Homo sapiens: one gene and its partner. The protein of the gene in region 2 interacts with the protein of the main gene of each other region in a pairwise test. Each region holds a gene or a part of one and is shown on either strand. Other genes may lie near its edges.

Region 1 (7,032 bases), about 110 Mb from region 2:
GACAAGAAACACTGTCTCAAAAATGAAAAAAAAAAATGCCCAAAACAATTCAAACCATTAATTAGTTTATCTTTTTTTTCTTGTTTTATTTTATCTGAATGTCCCAAATAGCAGCTATTTCATGACTATTTTCAACTCAAGCTGGAAGGAGGCTCTGTCCCATTTGAATGTTTTCAAATCCTAGATGGAAACACTTGTAGAAAGTACGCTCGATAGCCAGGAAAGCTCTCAGCTGCAGGCTGAACCTGCTGGACTCCCAGCAACTTGGGCAGTGAAAGAAATGGGCTGTGGAATAAATGCATGTAATCGATCTAAGAACCTGGAAAAGGGTAGATTGAAGGAGCCTGTGGAAATTAAGAGCGTTAACCATACTTCCAGTGACTCATCTTGGCTACAGCTGACTTTACCCCAAGCCCAGCAGGTCACCTGGGACAGCCCTGACTTCTCAGATTGTATTAACCACGCTTTTATTTTCTGATGCTTTGATATTTTAGTGTCTTGTGGATCCCAGAGGTATAGTCTCTCCTAGGATTAGCTAATTCCTAGAGGCCTGACTTTTATATGCAAACCAACCAGTCCAGAGCTAATTCCTAGGAGCCTGACTTTCATATGCAAACTAACCAGTCCAGAGCCCACTCCCCAGCAGCCTCCTATATTGGTCCATCACACTTAGGGCTGCCTTCCATCTGTTTTTTTTTTTTTGTCTGAGACAGAGTCTTGCTGTGTGTCCAAGGCTGGAGTGCAGTGGCCTGATCTCGGCTCACTGCAATCCCCACCTCCCGGGTTCATGCAATTCTCCTACCTCAGCCTCTGGAGTAGCTGGGATTACAGGCACACACCACCATGCCCGGCTAATTTTTGTATTTTTAGTAGAGACAGGGTTTCACCATGTTGGCCAGGCCGGTCTCGAACTCCTGACCTCTGGTGATCCACCCGCCTCAGCCTCCCAAAGTGCTGGGATTACAGGTGTGAGCCACTGTGCCCAGCCCTTCCACCTGTATTGATCACCCCAGCACCAGCAGCCAGACAACTAAGGACAGCCCCTACACCCCAGAGCACACTGGAATTATCCACTCTAACCAATCCTAAACCCGTTTACCCTGCCTCCCATGAAACCACAATAAAGGCTGTTGTTTGCCACATTTCCCCTCACTCCCTCCACCTCCTGACCCACCTGGGGCTTCCCCAGGTGCCCCCCACTTTACGGTGTTCTACACCTCTTGGTGTAGAGTGCCCTTTCCTCTTGGGATCAGAGAGTATAAAAATTATCTCGTCAAAGAGAGTTGTCTGCTGATCTATCTGTTGGCCTTATCATACCTAAATAATAAGACATTATATATATGTTGGAGACCGGGCCTTGCTATGTTGCCCAGGCTTGAGTGCAGTGATAGTCACAGGTTCAGCCATAGCTCACTACAGCCTCGAACTCCTGGGCTCAAGTGATCCTCCTGCCTCAGTCTCTGGAGTAGCTGGGACCGAAGGCATATACCACTGTACCCAGCTAATAAGACATATTTTAAAACATGGATGTTGCAATGGGATATGATTGCTTTAGCATCTAATCCCCTCACTCCAACGGCATCCTCTGTCTTTTCCTGGTAAGAAAAAGTGCCGAATGACCACTAGAAGGACCTGAAGTCCAGCAGCGTTTCCTAATCAGGGTTCCTCATCTTAATCACAGAATTCAAAAAATAACTAGAGTGGTGAGTTTCTGGATTGTCTCAAGGACTCCATAACTAGCCCCACTCTCCATGCATGGAGGTTAATTCATTACACACAGCAGAGATCACGGGGAAATGGGGCTTATTTTTTCTAGAGAACGCAGTTGGGAAAGGCCGAGTCTAAGGTCTAGGTGTACCCGAGAACCCTTAATCCTGCCTCATAGAAGCAATTCGTCTTGCCAGGAGATGATGATGGCATCACGGTGTGGTGTCCCATCCCTGTGCCACCCTGGCTAACGTTACCTGGGCTCGGTGCTCCCCGACGGCGAACTGTATCACGGCCACGCCCGGGCTATGGCTGTCTTCAATCCTCTCTACGGTGCTGGAGTCGATCTTCAGGTCGTTGCTTATCTCTGCACTCTGGATGAAATCTTCTGTTTTTAAGTCTTCCACCTTCTTTAGCTCCCCGTTGGCCAACTGGATGATGGAGCCTTTCATGAAGTAGGGAGGCAGCGTAGGGGGAGCCGCCGCCGGGGAGGCCACGGACTGCACCACAGGCAGGTGGATCTGGGCCTGCACCATGGCTGGGTAGGCGGCCTGGGTGACCAGGGCCTCAGGGTTGAAGTTCTCGCTCTTGGGAAGGGCGGTGGTGACGAACGTGTGAGGCACTGCAGCAAACTGGGGGGATGACGTGACTATGGCCGGGGCTGCCCCCGACGCTTCCATGTCAGTGCTGCCGACCGGGATGAGCAGGGGCTGTGTGCCGGGGATCACCAGGTGCTGGGGCAGGCTGCCGGCGTAGGTGATTGCTTGCTGCTGGCCGCTCAGGTAGCCGATGACAGGGGGTTGAGTCCCTGCGTAGAAGGCCGTGGCTGGCAGTCCCACCGGGAGTGGCTCTGAAGCACTGTGTGTGGTCTGAATGACCGTGTGGGGTGAGAGCGCGTAGGACCGGTGGCCAGGCTTCCCTAAATGCAGGCCACTTTTGTCGTTGAGGGTAGAAGGGGAGGCTTCACGATGAGTGGCCTGTTGCACCTCCAGGTCAGCTGCGGGCGTGTTGCTGTTGGGCAGGACCATCACAGAGGCCCGGACCCCCGAAGGATCACGACTGCTGTAGTCTGAGGGGCTCGGGTGGACCACCACGTGCCTGGACTCGTACGGGTGAGGAACCGACTTGCCGCCTGCCTTGCCCAGGCCCAGGTCGGCTGAGGACGGGGCCCCGTACCGCCGGCTCTTCTCCATCTCACCGTTCAGGACCTCCTTGGCCTGGATGGCCTGCTGCAGCCGGCTGCTCTCAGCTTTCTTGGTGGCCTCCCGAGGGACAAAGTGGCTGCCGGAGTCGGCGTATTGCATGACGACCTGGGAGGGGGGCCCCAGGGTGAGCGTGTGTGGGATCATCGTCTGGTGGGGGTGGAGGTGGACGGGGATGGCCGGAGGAGAGGCGGTGCGGCCGGTGTTCTGCGGAGAACTGGAAATGTGGACGTACTGGTTCTGCTGGGCTGGTGGGGGGGACCCCGGGGTGATGAGCCCCGGAGCCCTGCTGAGGTGCTGCTGCTGCTGCTGCTGCTGCTGCTGCTGCTGCTGCTGCTGATGCTGATGCTGCTGCTGCTGCTGCTGCTGCTGCTGCTGCTGCTGCTCAGCCTTGTGTCCCGGCGTCTGGCTCAGACTGCCCATGTTGGCCAGCAGAGTGGAATAGGCCTCCAGCTGGGAGCGCTGGGATGGAGTGGTGGCCCCTGCGGCCGAGGCCACTGCACTGGTGACGGGGTTGGCGGTTGGGGGGATCAGCTGTGATGGGATGAAGCTGGCATAGGTTCCACTGTATTGGGAGGACCCAATGAACTGGAAGGTGTGCGGCAGGTGAGCGTACTGCACGGGGGACACCGGGGTCCCTGGCTGCGGGGTGGCGTACGCGGCAGGCAGCGTGGTGGCCACGGGGACAGACCTGGGAGCGCTGGGCGGGGAGTAGTCCAGCCCTGTGGACAATGCTTTGTGTAAACCTATTCCCTGTTGTAAACCAAGCTCCACCGAGGTCCCTGCCGGCCCATGCCTCCCGCCCCCGTGGCCCCGGCCACCAGGGTTGCCCGGGAGCCATGCTGTGCCCTCCACCCGGTGGTTGTCGCTGGGCAGGGTAGGGGCCTTCTCCTCGGAGGACCGGCTGGTGGCGGGGATCTCGCGCTTCTTGGGAGGCAGGCATTCGTTGCTCCGCTCTTGGTTGGATTTCATTTTTCGCCGTCCCCCCTCCACGGTGACTGTTTCACTGTCTGGATGGCTCTGATTTTAGTCTGATAAACGGAAAGTCACATTTGATTTCTGTAGGGGATCCAGGCTCTTCATGAGGAATCATCTCCCCGTGGGTACAATCCGCCAACAGCAGCTCTGGATGCTGGGAAAGGGAAGAGGGCAGTGACAAAGGGAAAAGGAAAGGGAGGAGAAAGGGAAGGAGGGAAAGGACATCAGAACATGAGCACCGGGGAAAGAACATCTTTGGCAAGATTAAGACTAGGCCCTGGACTCGGTGTGAACTCCCATAACCCAATCATACCCCAAGCACTGAAGCAGAGAAAACACTAGCCAACACTTTGGGAGGCCGAGGCAGGCAGATCACGAGGTCAGGAGATTAAGACCATCCTGGCTAACATGGTGAAACCCCGTCTCTACCAAAAATAAAAAATAAAAAACAAATTTAGCCTGGTGTAACATTAGCTGGCACACGGCTGTAGTCCCAGCTACTTGAGAGGCTGAGGCAGGAGAATTGCTTGAACCCAGGAGGCAGAGGTTGCAGTGAGCCGAGATTGCACCATTGTACTCCAGCCTGGGCAACAGAGCGACACTCTGTCTCCAAAAACGAAACAAAACAACAACAACAAAAACAAAAACACTAGCCGTGGCAGCTGCACATTATAAAGGAAGATTATGAAGACACTGGGCAAGTGAACACTGTAACACATATATTTTTTAATGGAGTTAACAACTCCCCTAAGATGTTCTCAATACCCTCTCTCCTGTTTTTTTTTCTCCTTTTCTTCTTCAAGGGCAGATGATGCAGTTCTTAAATTTCCTTTTCAGAAATGTTGGTTCCATTTCTCACCTCTCCTTTGCCTGGCTGGAACATAAAATGAAGCCCTTGGAGAGCATGACACCAGCTGGACCCTGCCCTCAGAGCCAGGCACTGAGAAAAAGCAGGTTAGCAGTGAAAGTCCAGAACAGTCCTTGCACTCGATTTCTGAATCCTCATCTGCCAGAGCCACTACTCTCCAAGATTCCCCTTAGCTCTGGGTCCACACTGGACCTACGATTTCCTCTCCCTAATACACACACACACAAACACACACACACACGCCAACTCAGCAGAGGCCGCCAGAAATAATCCTGTTCTCTGCAAGTTTCAAAAGAATTCCCAGTACAGCCACTCATATGATGACGGAGTGAGACTGTTAAAAACCGAATTTGATTATGGTTAAAAAACCCAAATACCATACAAAAATAGGGCTAGTGCACTGAATGTTTTCTCAGTGGGTTACATGCTTGGTTTGTCCATCTCTCTCTTCCTTTTCAAGTTGTCATTGAAGTTCCCCTTCACACCGTCCCCTTTCTCATTGGAAAGTAACAACTCGCCATTAACACTAGAGACGACAGCTCTTTCAGACAAATCAGATCAGTGTGTTCAAACCTGGACATACAAATGGTGACCCTGGAGCCAGTTCTTATGGTCAAGTATCTCAGTCTCTTACTAACCACTGAAGTCTGAGTTACTGCTGCTGTGTGGGCAAACCAATGCCCAACAGACAAGAGGCCAAATATCAGTGGAACTGACATGACCCAGGCTAGCAAGCAGCGGATGTGATTGCTTCCACAGGTAGCAGCTGTAGGTATGCACAGTGCAACATGCTGTGATTCTGAGAGCTGTGGGATTGGGCTTTGGGAATTCCACACCCTTGGGTTTTGGTATCTCACATCCAGACCCTCTTTTCAATGATCTGATTTTCTTTCTTTCTTTCTTTCTTTCTTTGGAGAGATGGGGTCTTGCTATGTTAACCAGGCTGGTCTTGAAATCCTGGCCTCAAGAAATCCTCCTTCCTTGGCCTCCCAAAGTGCTAGGATTCCAGGCATGAGCCACTGTGTGTAGCCAATGATCCGATTTTAAAACAAACACAATAAAGTAGCGGCCTTCAGCATTCAATCCTTGTCCATGTTGGAGCAACACTGAAATCCCTACTGAAACATAACCCCCTTTCTCTACTCTGCCCCCTACTTTGTAACTATTTTTTAGAGGGGGCAATGATTTTTTTCCTTCCTTCCTTCCTTTTTTTTTTTTTTTTTTTGAAAAGGTCTTGCTTCGTTGCTCAGACTGAAGTGCAGTGGCGTGATCTCGGCTTGCTGCAACCTGTGCCTCCTGGGCTCAAGTGATCCTCCCACCTCAGCCTCCCAGGTAGCTGGGACTACAGGTGCACGCCACCACACCCGGCTAATTTTTGTACTTTTTGTAGAGGTGGGGTTTTGCCATGTTGGCCAGGCTGGTCTTGAACAGGCCTCAGTGATCCACCCACTTGGCCTCCCGGTGCTGGGATTACAGGCATGAGCCACTGCAGCCAGCTTGGAAGGGGCAATGATTTAATGGCCCTTATTGGTTTTGCTCCAACATCATCAATGAACATCATAATGAAATGACAAATGATACAACAGAAAGTTCTCAATCCTTAATGATTTTGATCAGATATCTAGGAAGGTGCAGGTTTAGAAATTTGGTGTCTCGATATCAAAGGACATTTCAGTAAGAATAGAATTTCTCATATGACAAGAGAGGCGCTTAAAGACTGGGACGGAAATGAAAAATAAGGTTAAAAAAACCCTAAAACACTTATGCTGAAGAAATGAAGTGTTGAAGGAGTAATGTCACTTATTTACTCTCGCAACCCAGGTGTTTTTTTTTTGAGATGGAGTCTCACTCTGTCGCCCAGGCTGGAGGGCAATGTGCCAATCTCGGCTCACTGCAACCTCCGCCTCCCGGGTTCAAGCGATTCTCCTGCCTCAGCCTCCTGAGTAGCTGGGATTATAGGCGGCTGCCGCCATGCCTGGCTAATTTTTGTATTTTTAGTAGAGGCGGAGTTTCACCATGTTGGCCAGGCTGGTCTCGAACTCCTGACCTCAAATGATCCACCAGCCTCTACCTCCCAAAGTGCTGGGATTACAGGCGTGAGCCACTGCGCCCTGCCCACCTAGGGTTTTTGTAAGTGACAAATAACTGTGTTCTGTACAGCCTTCCCTTGTAAAAAGAAGTTCTAATAATGAACTTTTATCTTTAAATTTCAAGACTCACTCTTAAGAAAGGGAATGCCAAACGCTCCCACATTTCCATACCAACGAGCAAGGAAAA
Region 2 (7,032 bases):
TATATTGTCTAGTTTTGAGCTATGCATTACATTTTCTCTTTAAGAAAAATGAATTAGTATGCATTTCAACTTCAGGCTTTATTCTAAAGTCTATATTATTATGACTTTTTCTAAAGAATACATATTTATGTGTTGTGTGAATGGACAAAGACACTTAATGAGCCTTCAAACATTTGTGGATGGATGAATGGATGGAAGATGGCTTGATGACTTCCATATATTTGGGTCTCAGGAAAGTTGTTTATTTCATAAGTTCTCAGGATGTAGCAAATTAATAAACTGCATATATTTGGAATAGAATTTCATTCTTTGTGTGTTTTTATTTCACAGAAGAAATGTGAAACAAATTCTAGCAAGAAGCAAAGCATTACAGTGGACGAAGTCCTATGTTTTACCAGAGTTTCCCTATGATGTCAAATGCATGTTAGCAGAGCAGAAGTGCCCGGATCACAGCATGAGGATAAGGATCATTGAGTTTCTCCAGGCCGACATGACTAAGTATCTGGAAGGCTCACTGTGAGTGACAACAGGACAAGCTTGCTGCTTTGGGAAAGGGTCTGTTTCAGAATAGAGTAGAATTCCTGTGGAATCAACTCTCTTCAGATTGTGGATGATATATTGGTAATAGGTCCCAATTGCCCAATATTTAAATCTCTTTTTGTTATATAGAAAAATGTGAAGAAAAATGAGTGTAATTAGACTCATCTTAAAGGAAGGAATGTGGTTTGCTTGAAGTGAAACATATCCTCCTTGTTTTGGTGAACAGGTACCCCAGCACCCAGCAGTACAATGACGTGGTTAATGCCCTGCTGCAGGCCCACCCTTTCCTGGATGAGGATGGCTGTGGCTTCGTAAGTGACCACATGGCACCATCCTGTTAATTTCAGACTATCTTAAAATAATTGCCTTGTGTTGCCCAGTAATTTTATGCTTCACCCATCTTTTCTTGGTGTCTCTCTCTCTCTCTCTCATTCTGTCTATGTATCTAGGTCTATCTGTTTCTGTTTTTCTGACTCTTTGTCTCTTTAATCTCTCTCCAACTTTGTTTCTGTCTTTCACTTTCTGTTAGTCCATGCTTCTTTCTTGACTTTGCGCTCTCTCTCTCTCTGGCTCTCTCTCTTTCTCTCTCTGTCTCCTTGTCTTCCCTTTTTCATAACTTCTTGGTCTCTCTCTGCCCTGTGTTTCTTTGTCTTCTTTGTCTCTCTCTGTCATCATGTTGCTGTCCTGTCAAAACTGGAAGCTCAGTGCAACAGAGCTGATCAGGAGTTGCCTAGGGCTGAGGGTGGCCAAAATGGATAGTGATTATGGTTGCACAAGCATATAAAGTTGCTAAAATTGAGCTGTTCGCTTTAGAGTCTTAAGGGTTTTAAGGGTTAGGAAGGGTCTTTAGGAGATGTGACACATAGAAAGAGAAAGACATGGCTGCACCTGCTTCGGAGCTGTCATCAAGTGTTTCTTGCCTTCTCAGACCCAGTGGAGCTGTTGTCTGGCTTTGAGGTCTGGGCCTCCAGCCTTACCTGGCCCTGTCAGATCTCTGCTTTCTGTCCTGATAAAAACAGACCCTCAGGATGCTCTGGGGCAGCAGTTCTTTTTTTTTTTTTTCCTTTTTTTTTTTTTGAGACGGAGTCTCGCTCTCTCACTCAGGCTGGAGTATAGTGGCGCGATCTCAGCTCACTGCAACCTCCGCCTCCTGGGTTCAAGCAATTCTCTGGGGCAGCAGTTCTAAGCTCTGGTTGCACATTAGGATTCCTAGAGATTCAGATTGAATTAATTTGAGGATGGGATTATTCTAATGTACAACCACGGCTGAGAACCACTGCCGCTGACGTTTCAACACAAAGTTTGCTGTTTGAACCTGCCTGTCTCCTGGATTTCAAAGACCACTGTCTTCATTGCACAACAATGTGAATATAATCAACACTATTGAACTGTACCTAAGAATAGTTAATAAAAAACTGAGTGTTTATGATGCTGTAACTTTATGAGTTAAGGAACAATTACAAGGAACTGTAGCTATGTATACAAAAAGGTAGATGGTCTATTATTCCCTGTATCTCTATATGCCATATGCATACACATTGGTAGGCATATCTAAAGAAGATAGATGTCTTTTTGTGCTTTACTGTCTCAGATGTCTGTGAAAAGATATTTTTTGCTGTGCTTTCTTAAGGACATGGAATTTCAGCAATTATTTCCAAGAACAACAAAGGATAAATGCCAATTATCTATGAATATAAAGACATTTTAAGGCTCTGTTTCCTCCCTCCCTTCCTCCTTTCCTTCCATCCTTCTTTCCTTCCTTCCTTCCTTCCTCCCTCCCCTCCCTCCTTCTTTCTTCCCTCCTTCCTTTCTTCCTTCCTTATTTGTATTTACCCCTCCCTCCCTCTCTCCCTCCCTTCCTTCCTTCTTTCCTTCCTTCCTTTCTTCCTTCTTTTTTTGTATTTTCAAGAAAAGGTTCATTATATATGGAGAGAATCACAGAATTTTCTCAGTGGGAGAGGTAATTAAAGGTTTTTTTCACCACTCAGACTGAGGAAAGATGTTGTATACCATGTCTGGAAAAATGATAGTTATTGAAGCCAAGATTAGAATTCAGGTATTCTTGCTTCTAGGATGACATCCTTTCCAAAATATGCTGCTGCATATAAAGTGCACTACAGAAGAAACTGAATTTCCTCTAAAAAAACAAAACAAAGCGAAGGAAAAAAAACAAGGCAACAACAACAATACTACACAAACCTGGCATCCCAACATTGACAATCATGTCAATATGGCTGACAAAACTGATTCTCGGAATTTCTTCTACACTGGAGATACATCTACCAACTTAATGTCTAATCAGTGTTACTGTGTATAGAACTTGTGGTTTTTTTTTTTTTTTTTTTTTTTGAGACAGAGTCTTGCTCTGTCGCCCAGGCTGGAGTGCAGTGGCACGATCTCGACTCACTGCAAGCTCCGCCTCATGGGTTCACGCCATTCTCCTGCCTCAGCCTCCCGAGTAGCTGGGACTACAGGTGCCCCCCACCACGCCCAGGTAATTTGTTGTATTTTTAGTAGACATGGATTTTCACCATGTTAGCCAGGATAGAACTTGTGTTTTTTTTTTAAATTTACATTTACTGTTTGAATAAATTACATATTTACATAGCTCAAAATTCAAAAACTACAAAAGGGTATAAATAGAAAAGTTTCCCACCCGCCCTTGCTTCTGCAGCCACCTAATTTTCCTCCCCATAAGTAACCAATACTATTAGAGTCCCTCTAGAGAATCTTTGCATATACCTAAGCAAATCCATATTGATTCAATACCTTTTGACCTTTAGTTTGATGGTTATCAAAGTGAGACATGTACAAAGTAACAAATAATGCTTTCTTTGCTCTTGTGTCCATTTTATCCACATCTGTTCCCAGTGACATTCACTAAGGACCGTTAACTGATAAAGAGATGTGTGCAAAATTGCTTAGCAGATTAGGGCTCAGATTTGCACTCATAGAGTAGAAGGAGAAACTCTGGTGCCTGGATGGATGTTTACCCAAATTCTCCCTGCGAGTGTGTGTGAGGTTGTGTTTCTAATGTTACAGTGGAAAATGTACAAAATTTCAGAGAACATTAATGGGAGGCAGGGGTGGAGAAAGAAAAAGGGTGCACAAACTTGGTTATTTTTAGGGCTAAGTTTATTTTTAACTCTTAATTTTGAAAAATTTGGGGCCGGGTACGGTGGCTCATGCCTATAATCCCAGCACTTTGGGAGGCCAAGGCGGGCAGATCACCTGAGGTCAGGAGTTTGAGACCAGCCTGGCCAACATGGTGAAACTCTCTCTCTACTAAAAATACAAAAATTAGCCGGGCATGGTGGTGGGCACCTTTAATCCCAGCTACTCAGGAGGCTGAGGCAGGAGAATCGCTTGAACCGGGAGGCCGAGGTTGCAGTGAGCTGAGATCACGCCATTGCACTCCAGCCCAGGTAACAAGAGCGGAACTCCGTCTCAAAAGAAAAAAGAAAGAAAGAAAAAGAAAAAAGAAAAGAAAAGTTTCAAATCTGAACAAAAGTTGAAAGAATGCTACATTGATATGCATATACTCCTAACAACATGGATTTTCTCAACCTCTTGACTGTTTACCTTTGGGGCTGGATAATTCTTTCTGCTGGGGACTGTCTAGTACATTGAAGTATATTTAGTAGCATCCCTGGCACCCACTAGGTGTGAGTAGCACTCTGTCCACCCAGTTGTAACAACCAGACATGTCCCCAAACATCACTAAAGTAAGCACACTACAGAATAAAGCAAAATTTCTCTTAAAAAACAAAACAAAGCAACAACAACAACAAAACCAAACAAGGGGAGGGAGAGGAGCAACATCACGTCACTGGCTGAGAGTTACTGATCTAGATTAGGGATTTTTTTGCCACATTTATTTTTCTTCTGTCATATTTGTTTGCTTGTTTGTTTGTTTTGGTTGAGCATTTAAAAGCAAGTTGCAGATGTCATCCCTAAACACCATAACATATATAAGAACAGCTGGGAGTGGTGGTTCACGCCTATAATCTCAGCATTTTGGGAGGCCAAGGCGGACGGATCACTTGATCCCAGGAGTTCAAGACCAGCCTGGGCAACATGGTAAAACCCCATCCCTACAAAAAAAAAAAAAAAAAAAAAAAAAAAATTAGCCAGGTATGGTGGCATGAGCCTGTAGTCTCAGCTACTTGGGAGGCTGAGGTGGGAGGACCACTAGAGCCCAGGAGGTTGAGACAGCAGTGAGCTATGATTGCACTACTGCACTCCGGCCTGGATGACAGAGCAAAACCCTGTCTCAAAAATAATAATAATAAAAAAAAAGGTCGTGTACGGTGGTTCACGCCTGTAATCCTAGCACTTTGGGAGGCTGAGGCGGGTGGATCACCTGAGGTCAGGAGTTCAAGACCATCCTGGCCAACATGGTGAAACCCCGTTTCTACTAAAAACACAAAAATTAGCTGGGCATGGTGGCAGGTAACTGTATTCCCAGCTACACGGGAGGCTGAGGCAGGAGAATCGCTTGAACCCAGGAGGCAGAGGTTGCAGTGAGCCAAGATCAGTGTCGTCGTACTCTAGCCTGGGGGACAAGAGCGAGACTTCATCTCCAAAAAAAAAAAAAAAAAAAGAATAAGGACAATCTCTTATATAACCACAATACCATTCTTATACCCAAGAAAATTAGCAATAAGTGCATAATATCATATACAATCCATATTCACATTTCTCCAATTTTTCAAAAATGTTTTAAAGATAGTTTTTTGCTATAATATCTAATTGAGTATTATGCATTGCATTCGTTATTATGTCTCTTTAATTTTTTTTTTTTTTTTGCCTAGACAGTCTCTCCATACCCTTTTTTATTTTTCTGGATATTTGCTTTTTGGACAAGTCTAGTCCAGTTGCCATGTAAGACGGTCCACATTCTGCATTTGAATGTGCAAAGATCTGCTCGTGATGCTGTGGACTGCTTCATATGTCACAACAGGAGGTCTGCAATTTCAGGGCCATTTTTTATTTCAGAGTGGTTGACGGAGAGCTGTCTTCATGTAGAACTTTCTACACCCTCTCTAGCTGGAAACATGGAGGAGAGGGATGATTATTCTATAACATAAATATTTCCTACTGAGTCTGCCTACCTGAGGCGTCTGCGTAAGTAACTCATGGTGTCAGGCATATAGCAGATTCTCAGTAAATATTCATTGATTGAATACTCATGTGGAAGATTGTATTTGATTTGTCCTTTTTCTGTTCCTATCAGACAGTTAATAAGGAGAGATGGGAGAGGCTAGAAAGAAGAAATTGGCAATTTAAAAATGTCCTAGCCGTTGATTGCTATAATACCTCCCACCAGGTTCAGCACATTTAGAAACCCTTCAGAGCTACAGGAAACATATGGAAAAAAAATGTACTATACTTGCTTTAGTTCATATTTCATGGCTAAGAAAAATACAAGCCATTCTTTTTGTCTGTTCTGTGGTAAAACAGCAATGGTAAAGTCCAGGCTCACAAGCAAGCCTATGGGAGGTGATAAGGCACCTCTGACTCATGCATACCTGGGAGCTTAATCAGTGCTGAAGCCATACTCCAACCCTCAACCACTGCCTTTCTTACTAGGGCTGTTGAAGGACTTTACAAACAGCACTTTAGTTTACAAATATCTTCTATGAGTAGCTACTCACTCTCCCAAAAGGCTAGTGCAGTTGATAGGACAGATCTTATTGTTCCGTTTTATAGTTGAAGAAACTAAAATTAAGAGGGGTTACTTGGCTGATATGTATTCACACTAGTACTTGGACCTGCAGTCTTCCCAACTTAGGCTATGGTGCTTTCAGGGATTACTCTCATTGGGACTTACAAACCATATAACCAGGAATGGCAAAATCTAAGTGCCAAGCATTTGGCTAATGTTATTTTGGTGTCATTCCCATTGGCCCATGAGGAAATAGAGCTTAGAAAACATGCCCAAAGCCATTTGGCGACTTACCACTTTCTCTCTTGGCCAGGGCTCGAGGGAAACACAGGCCCATATGCCTGCAGGGGTTTTTTTTTTTTTCCCTTCCCCGCACTCACTGTGGGGATCTATTCAATCACACGGCATTGCAGCGGAGAAGAGCAGCAGAAGCAGCCCTAAGGCACTGTCTTCAAGAAGGGTTGGGCCAGCCGGGCGCGTGGTGGCTCACGCCTGTAATCCCAGCACTTTGGGATGCCGAGGTGCGCAGATTACCTGAGGTTGGGAGTTTGAGTCCAGCCTGACTAACATGGAGAAACCTCGTCTCTACTAAAAATACAAAAAATTAGCTGGCTGTGGTGGCACATGTCTGTAATCCCAGCTACTCAGGAGGCTGAGGCAGGAGAATCGCTTGAGCCCAGGAGGTGGAGATTGCAGTGAGCCAAGATTGCGCCATTGCACTCCAGCCTGAGCAACAAGAGTGAAACTCCGTCTAAAAAAAAAAAGAAGGGTTGAGCCACCACTCATGCAGTGAGTTAGTTACCAGCTAAGCACTGCCAAGACTC

Evidence for each region.
Region 1: the proteins of SAMD3 (region 2) and ATXN1 interact in binary tests that used the Homo sapiens proteins (3 or more experiments, as listed by UniProt).

Annotation. Positions count from the first base shown.
Region 1 is NC_000006.12:16,324,430-16,331,461, forward strand, and holds part of ATXN1 (ataxin-1), read right to left. Parts: intron 4,042-7,032; 5' UTR 4,003-4,041; coding exon of another isoform or gene 3,913-4,002; 5' UTR 3,882-3,912; coding exon 1,965-3,881; intron 1-1,964. Other genes in the region: uncharacterized LOC127903862, read right to left, coding at 3,913-4,002. UniProt on the Homo sapiens protein: Chromatin-binding factor that repress Notch signaling in the absence of Notch intracellular domain by acting as a CBF1 corepressor. Binds to the HEY promoter and might assist, along with NCOR2, RBPJ-mediated repression. Binds RNA in vitro.
Region 2 is NC_000006.12:130,177,922-130,184,953, reverse strand, and holds part of SAMD3 (sterile alpha motif domain-containing protein 3), read left to right. Parts: intron 1-330; coding exon 331-516; intron 517-766; coding exon 767-851; intron 852-2,612; coding exon of another isoform or gene 2,613-2,648; exon of another isoform or gene 2,649-2,882; intron 2,883-7,032.